2 linked regions of the Homo sapiens genome follow. The protein of the gene in region 1 interacts with the protein of each later gene in a pairwise test. Each region holds a gene or a part of one and is shown in the gene's direction. Other genes may lie near its edges.

Evidence for each region.
Region 2: the proteins of TRIM3 (region 1) and ASL interact in a two-hybrid assay, tested with the Homo sapiens proteins (one large-scale study listed by BioGRID and IntAct).

What each region holds. Positions count from the first base shown.
Region 1 is NC_000011.10:6,452,624-6,457,735, reverse strand, and holds part of TRIM3 (tripartite motif-containing protein 3), read left to right. Parts: coding exon 1-40; intron 41-259; coding exon 260-440; intron 441-706; coding exon 707-1,439; intron 1,440-1,560; coding exon 1,561-1,664; intron 1,665-5,112.
Region 2 is NC_000007.14:66,082,319-66,085,818, forward strand, and holds part of ASL (argininosuccinate lyase), read left to right. Parts: intron 1-49; coding exon 50-133; intron 134-561; coding exon 562-618; intron 619-758; coding exon 759-856; intron 857-3,500.

The sequences.
Region 1 (5,112 bases):
AGGCGGCCCTGCAGCGCCAGCTCGAGGCTGTGCGTGGCCGGTAGGCACTGGGCAGGGTCCTGGGCTGGTGGGGCCACAGGGATGGTGTCTTAGCTCGGGCGGGGAGGGGAATAAAGGGTCTGGGAAGGGCAGAGATGGAAGTCTCAGGGAGGTCTCAGGAAGGAGATCTCCATGAGGGCAGCAGTAGGTTCCCCAGGGAGAAGGGAAAGTTCGGCAAAGCCACCCTCAGCAACTCTGGAATGAGATATTCCCCCTCCAGATTGCCACAGCTGTCCGCAGCAATTGCCTTAGTCGGGGGCATCAGCCAGCAGCTGCAGGAGCGCAAGGCAGAGGCCCTGGCCCAGATCAGTGCAGCGTTCGAGGACCTGGAGCAAGCACTGCAGCAGCGCAAGCAGGCTCTGGTCAGCGACCTGGAGACCATTTGTGGGGCCAAACAGAAGGTGTGTCTTGTGTTCACCCTTTCCTACCATCGTCCATTGTGATGGTGTTATTGCCTCCATTGTTCCTCTGTCTTCCACACCAGCTCCCCATTCCCCAGCCTAGATATTCTGCCTCCTGACATGCCCTCGGTAGGTGCTGTGGGCATCTGTGTCCTCTGTCCACAGGCACCCTCTTGTATTTTATGCCACAGTGCTACAACTTCAGTAATCACAGAGACTCCCCCTGTGCCAGTCTGCTCACCCACTCCTCCCCTACCCCTCATCAGGTGTTGCAAAGCCAGCTGGACACACTGCGCCAGGGTCAGGAACACATCGGCAGTAGCTGCAGCTTTGCAGAGCAGGCACTGCGCCTGGGCTCGGCCCCGGAGGTGTTGCTGGTGCGCAAGCACATGCGAGAGCGGCTGGCTGCATTGGCGGCACAGGCCTTCCCGGAGCGGCCACATGAGAATGCACAGCTGGAACTGGTCCTTGAGGTGGACGGTCTGCGGCGATCGGTGCTCAATCTGGGCGCACTGCTCACCACGAGCGCCACTGCACACGAAACGGTGGCCACGGGAGAGGGCCTGCGCCAGGCGCTAGTGGGCCAGCCTGCCTCGCTCACTGTCACTACCAAAGACAAGGACGGGCGGTTGGTGCGCACAGGCAGCGCTGAGCTGCGTGCAGAGATCACCGGCCCGGACGGCACGCGCCTTCCGGTGCCAGTGGTGGACCACAAGAATGGCACATATGAGCTAGTGTACACAGCGCGCACGGAAGGCGAGCTGCTCCTCTCGGTGCTGCTCTACGGACAGCCAGTGCGCGGCAGCCCCTTCCGCGTGCGTGCCCTGCGTCCGGGGGACCTGCCACCTTCCCCGGACGATGTGAAGCGCCGTGTCAAGTCCCCTGGCGGCCCCGGCAGCCATGTGCGCCAGAAGGCAGTGCGTAGGCCCAGCTCCATGTACAGCACAGGCGGCAAACGAAAGGACAACCCAATTGAGGATGAGCTCGTCTTCCGTGTTGGTACAGACAGCCGAGGGCAGAGCCAGATGGGCCAGGCTCAGGTAGTGGGTGGGGAGGGAAGGGAGGTTCAAGATGACCTCTGAATGAATTATTTTGTTTTCCCTCCTGTCCCTTCCCACAGGCAGTCGTGGAAGGGAGAAAGGTGAATTCACCAATTTACAAGGTGTGTCCGCAGCCAGCAGCGGCCGCATCGTGGTAGCAGACAGCAACAACCAGTGTATTCAGGTAAGCACCTTTACCGCTCTCCTCCACCACCAAAATAAGAGTTTTCAAGCTACAGGCTACTGAAAAGATAGAATGTACAGGTCACCTCCTGGAAGATGGAACCCTACAGATAGTACCGTTCCTTAAGAGCAGTGAATCAAAGGATCACCCCTTACGCACCCACCAGCCACCCCATTCCCATAGGCCACAACTGTAACCAGCACCTTCAGTCAGAAACCAGAGTTTACTATGCTTGTAGCCTCTACTTTGTAGGCCATGGCTTAGGGCAGGTCAGCTCCTGGACTGCAAAGATCTGGCTCATTCCTCCTTTCCTTCTGCCTCTCCTTGAGCCTCTTACTTTCTCCCTTTTTCTCCTGGTGGCCTGCCCTCCGTGTCTTCCAACATGCATGCCTGGCTCCTGAATGTATGTAGTCTGTCTGGAGTCTCTGCAGTTATCAGGTTGGCTAGACAGTTGCATAGGGGTATCTTGGCCAAAGGGGGTATCTTTCAGTGGCTAGAAGTTGTAGCAGGTGGTCCTCCCACTGCCTCTCCCATAACCTCATACACCTGATTATGGCATCAACCGCACTGAATGAACATGGTTTCTGCTGCACTGTGAGCTCCTTTTCAAAGCCAGGAAATGTGCCTTTTTTTCCCTCTGTTTCTTGTAGTAAAAGCTCAGAGCCTAGTACAGTGGGCACCAGGGTAGTTGACACAGCAGAGCAGTTAAAAGCTCAGGCTCTGAAACCAGACACCTGAGCTTGAATCCTAGCTCTGTCACATACTAACAAGTCACATGACCTCTTTGAGCTTCAGTTAACTCATGTGTAAAATTAGGAAAAGTATATCTGATAGGGTTGCGGGGAGTGTTAAATGATGTACTATACTTGACATCTAGTGAAACTTCTGATGTTAGCTATTGTTAAAAATATCATCGTCCAGGTGGAGGCTGTAAACAAAGGCAAGCAGGTGGGAAAGTGCTGGAGGAGGTGGTTCAGGGAACTGGAAGGAGCCCAGCAGGCCTGGAGGTAGATTACTATTAGAAGCCAGGGGTAGCTGAGGTCAGATTGTAATTGGTTTTGGAGATGGAGTGTGGAATTTTGATTTTATCCTATAGGGGATTGTTTCTAACTACCATGCACTTTACTTCTTCGAAACATTTTACTGGGTAGCAAAACTTTTCGCTGAAGATCCTTACTTCTAAACACCTATACGTTTAAACTTCCTGACCCTGCTTGAGTACTCATGTCATCGATCCAGCTCTGCTAAGGTCCTTTCCCTCAGTGACGGCTACTCTCTGACCCCTGCTTTTCACCTAACAGTCTAAAAGTGCAAGGGACTCTTCTGTGGCCATATTCCCAGTTCTGTCCAGTCGTCCTTTACTCCTACCCTATTTCTAAGAGCAGAGGAATGGAGAGGCCCTGTGCAGCACAGGAAGGCATTTGGGCCCAGCCTGGATAGTGAGGAGGGGATTGCGGGGGAGTAATGAGGTGGTGCTCAGTTCCCTACTCAGTTACACCTTCCAGCTCCTTTCCAACTCCCTAGGCTGGGAATGCTTCCTGGCATAAAAGTTGAGATTTGGGACCCCTTCTCTGTTGTGCACACACACAGGTGTGCTCACTGCTCACATGCACAGAAAAACAAGTGCCACTTTGTCTGTCCTGGTGAGGGGGCTGAACTTCCTCATAGTTTTTTTTTTTTTTTTTGAGACAGGGTCTCTGTTGTCCAGGCTGGAGTACAGTGCTATGATCACAGCTCACTGCAGCCTTGACCTCCTGTGCTCAAGCAATCCTCCTACTTCAGCCTCCCGAGTAGCTGGGACTACAGGCGCATGCCACTATACCTGGCTAATTTATTTTATTTTATTTTTATTTTTAGTAAAGACGGGGTTTCACTATATTGTTTGGGCTGGTCTGGAACTCCTAGGCTCAAGCTATCCTCCTGCCTTGGCCTCTGAAAGTGCTGGGATTACAGGCATGAGCCACTGCACCTGGCCTCCCCATTGTTTCAGAGTGGGGAATTGAGAGGGAACACCTGGTATAGCTCCACTCTCTTCCAAACACCTGCTACTTCTATAGCAGTCCTCCTCTTGCTTCTACTTCCACCTGCCCTCTATGTCGCCACTGCTAGGAGCCTGGCTCAGATTTCTAAGTTGAATTTCTGCTTCTCTTACTCTGGAGTCCTTAGGGCTGGCATGGGCTGGGCTCCCTGATGAGGTCTGATCCCCCTCCTCCTCTCAGTACATGGGGATTGGGGTCCTCACGACATGACCGTTTTCTCTTTTGGACACTTCTATGGTGGAGGATGAGGCAGACCTCACTGAGTGGAACCAGCATCAGTTGACAGAAGACAAAAAACATTTTGTGATTCTGAATTAATAATTTGATTTGTATATATTATGTCCTTGTGTAATTGTCTAAGCTTCCAGTTTTATCAGCTCTTCTGTGAAAACTCCCTCATTCCCTTAGGCAGAATGTTAAATCACATTCTTCTCAGTTCCCTCAGCCTTTTGCTATAGTACTTTTCATACTTTACTGGAATCACTGGTTTGTTTTTGTTTTTGTCTGGTTTTGTTTTGTTTTATTTTGGTTTAAGTCTTTCTCCCCCACTAGACTGTGAGATCCCTGAAGTCAGGGATCTACTTTCAGATACCATGGTATAGGAGAGAGATGTTAAGGACCAAACTAGGACACCAGCAGATTCTAGAGATATTAAGGAAGCAAGAATGGCAGATTTTGCTAAATCGTCAAATGTCAAGAATGGCAGGACTTTGTGGACTGGGTAGATGGTGTTGCCATTCAGGAGCAGGCCCAGGTTTAAGTTGATGAATTCACTTTTGCAGATGTTTGAGATAGCTATGCGGCATTCAAGTGGAGATGTCCAGTTCAGGTCTGAGATTGAGCTGGGGAGTTCATTCATTTGTTGAATGCCTACTATGTGCCAAATGCCATATCAGTGCTGCAAGTGCAGCAGCAAACAAAACAGATGCAGTCCTTATGCCATGCGAGGCTTACATCCTTAGAAGGGGACACCGATATTTAACAGTTATTTAGCTGCAAAGTGATAATTGTTATGAAGAGAGCTGTAAAGCATATATCCTGGTGACCTAAGTTTATATGTGCATATTGATTTGGTAGGGCGGAGGGTGGTACTTGGTCATTAGTCTTCTCTGAAAAAGTGACCTGGAAATTCTAAGAATGGAAAGATGAGTAAGAGTTGGCCAGGTGTCAGGGGTGGGATAGGCTGGGACTGGAAGAACAAGACATCCCAAAGCCTCATCAGTATTGAGCCAGAACCTGAGCTGCTCAAACTGGAGGGGCATTACCTCACCGCTAAACTGTACCTTTTAGTGCCCCCTCACTTCTACTATTTAGCTCGTGGAGCTCATGGTATCTCCCTTCTCATACTGATGAGTGCTGTCCTGCCACAGGGGACCACTGCAGAACCCAAGAGCTGTGCTGGTCAGCCA
Region 2 (3,500 bases), on another chromosome or scaffold:
CTGCTGATGCCTGCTCACCTGACCCCGGCATTGCTGCTACCCACTACAGGTGGCTGAGGAGTGGGCCCAGGGCACCTTCAAACTGAACTCCAATGATGAGGACATCCACACAGCCAATGAGCGCCGCCTGAAGGTACGACCCCTGGAGCCCCACCGCTTTCCTTGCCTCCCCTCTCCACCTTGCCCAGGGCCACTTTGAGCATTAGCACCATTCTGTTTACTTCGCCATTGGCAGACAGCATGTGAGACCTCAGGACATGAGCCAGGCACCCTGGCTCATGCCTATAATCCTAGCACTTTGGGAGGCTGAGGTGGGAGGATTGCTTGAGACCAGGAGTTCGAGACCAGCCTGGGCAACATAATGAGGTCCCACAGCTACAAAAATTAAAAAAAGAAAAGAAAAAAAGAACAGGCCTCAGCAGAAATGGCGAGAGATTTGGGGAGGACCCGGAGCCCTGGGGTATGGAGGTAGGTTGGCAGGGCTGATGAGGAAAACTGCCCTGCCTGGGTTGACTCCTCTGGGGGTATAGACCGTGACCCTGGGTCTCCCTTCACCTCCAGGAGCTCATTGGTGCAACGGCAGGGAAGCTGCACACGGGACGGAGCCGGAATGACCAGGTGCTTTAGCCCCTCCACCCCCTGCTCCGTGTTGTCCCAACCTTGAGGAGCCCAGGGGGCAGTTAGAGTTCTGCAGCGGTCCTGGCTCCTCAGGGAAGCAACACATCGGCCTCCCTGAGCACCATCTCCTCCTTGCACAGGTGGTCACAGACCTCAGGCTGTGGATGCGGCAGACCTGCTCCACGCTCTCGGGCCTCCTCTGGGAGCTCATTAGGACCATGGTGGATCGGGCAGAGGCGTGAGTCCTACAGGGACACCCAGGGGGCAGACAGAGGTGTGATGGAAGCCTGAACAGGAGACCTAGGGGGCAGGGGTGAACAGCGTGGGGGTGCCAGGCCCTGGGGGACAGGGGCATCCCAGAACTCCAGGATCGAGGCAGAGCAGCCAGGAGTGGGCCATTTCCTGCAGGCCCCAATACTCCCATGCCAGTCTAGCTCAGCAGGCAGAGAAGACTAACCCTTCGTGGGGCTGGGTGCGGTGGCTCACGCCTGTAATCTCAGCACTTTGGGAGGCCGAGGTGGGTGGATCACCTGAGGTCAGGAGTTCGAGACCAGCCTGGCCAACATGGGAAAACTCTGTCTCTACTAAAAATACAAAAATTAGGCAATGTGGTGGTGTGCGCCTGTAATCCCAGCTACTCGGGAGCCTGAGGCAGAAGAACTGCTTGAACCCGGGAGGAGGAGGTTGCAATGAGCCGAGATCGCGCCATTGCACTCCAGCCTGGGCTACAGAGCGAGACTCCTGTCTCAAAAAAAAAGAAAAAAAAAAAAGAAAACTCACCATTTGCAGATTTGAAGGCAGGAAGCTAAGCCAAGCACAGCTAGCTTGGCTGTGCCTGGAGCAGCCAGAGTCACTCCCCACACTGCCTGTCCCCCAGATCCCCCATCCTAAGCTTCGCCTCCCCATCCAGCCCATCTGGCAAAAGACAGAGCCAAAGGCTGCCTCCTGCTGGCCTCATTTCAGGCTTTGGCTTCTGGGACCTGGTGTCTTTGGGACTGGATTTGTTCCTTGCAGACCTGGACGAAGAGCTGCTGAGAAGTCTCCATGTGTTGTCAGAGACCCCTCCTCTTCCTCAACTCCCTGTGACCCCTGTTGTGCAGACTTGGGGGAAAACAAGGGCACAAGAATTGTCACCCAGCAGGTGGTGTGGGGCTGCTAGGAGGAACAGGGAGTGTCTGCTACTGAGTTCAGGGTTTCTTTAATTTTTTGTTGTTGTTGTTTGTTGTTGTTTTTTTTTTTTTGAGACAGGGTTTTGCTCTGTCACCTAGTCTGGAGTGTAGTGGCGCTATCTGAGCTAACTGCAAACTCTGCCTCCTGGGTTCAAGTGATTCTAGTGCCTCAGCCTCCCAAGTAGCTGAGATTACAGGTGTGCACCACCATGTCCAGCTAATTTTTGTATTTTTTTCAGTAGAGATGGGTTTTGCCATGTTGACCAGGCTGGTCTTGAACTCCTGAGCTCAGGTGATCTGCCCGCGTCGGCCTGCCAAAGTGCTAGGATTACACCCATAAGCCACTGCGCTCAGCTTAATTTTTAAATTTTTAACTTTTTAAATTGTCTTTAGAGATGAGATCCTGCTCTGTCACCTAGGCTGGAGTGCAATGGCTTGGTAATAGCTCACTGCAGTCTCAAACTCCTGGACTCAAATGATCCTCCCACCTCAGCTTTCTGAGTAGCTAGGACCACAGGTGTGCACCACCTGTGAGACAGAGTCTTGCTCTGTTGCCCAGGCTGGAGTGCAGTGGCGTGATCTCCACTCACTGCAACCTCTGCCTCCCAGGTTCACGCCATTCTCCTGCCTCAGCCTCCCGAGTAGCTGGGAGTACAGGTGCCCACCACCACGCCCGGCTAATTTTTTGTATTTTTAGTAGAGACGGGGTTTCACCATGTTAGCCAGGATGGTCTCAATCTCCCGACCTCATGATCCACCCACCTCGGACTCTCAAAGTGCTGGGATTACAGGTGTGAGCCACCGTGCCCAGCCGCGAATTCTTTAAATTTTTTGTAGAAACAGGGTCTCACTATGTGGCTCAGGCTGGTCTCAAACTCCCGGCCTTAAGTGATCCTTCCCTCTTGGCCTCCCAAAGTGCTGGGATTAAAGACTTGAGCCACCGTGCCTGGCCTTGAGTACAGAATTTCTTCATGGGGTGATGAAAATGTTCTAAAATTGGTTGTGGTGATGGTTGTACAGTAAAGTGTAAACTTTAAATGAGTAAATTGTGAATGATATCTCAGTAAAGCTGGTTTATTTAAAACAACAGGCCAGGTGCTGTGGCTCACGCCTGTAATCCCAGCACTTTGGAAGGCTGAGGCGGGTGAATCACCTGAGGTCAAGAGTTCGAGACCAGCCTGGCCAACATGGTGAAACCCCATCTCTACTAAAAATACACAAAATTAGCTGGGTGTGATGGTGGGCACCTGTAGTCCCAGCTACTTGGGAGGCAGGAGAATCTCTTGGACCTGGGAGGTGGAGGTTGTAGTGAGCCGAGATCACGCCACTGCATTCCAGCCTGGGCAACAAGAGCGAAACTCTTTCTCAAAAACAACAACAACAAAAAAACAGGCCAGGTATGGTGGCTCATATCTGTAATCCCAGCCCTTTGGGAGGCCAAGGCAGGAGGACTGCCTGAAACCAGGAGTTTCAGACCACTCTGGGCAACATAGCAAGACCCCATCTTTTTTTTTTTTTTTGAGACGGAGTCTCGCTCTGTCGCCCAGGCTGAAGTGCAATGGTGCAATCTCAACTCACTGCAAGCTCTGCCTCCTGGGTTCATGCCATTCTCCTGCCTCAGCCCTCCTGAGTAGCTGGAACTACAGGCGCCCACCACTACGCCCGGCTAATTTTTTGTATTTTTAGTATAGATGGGGTTTCACCGTGTTAGCC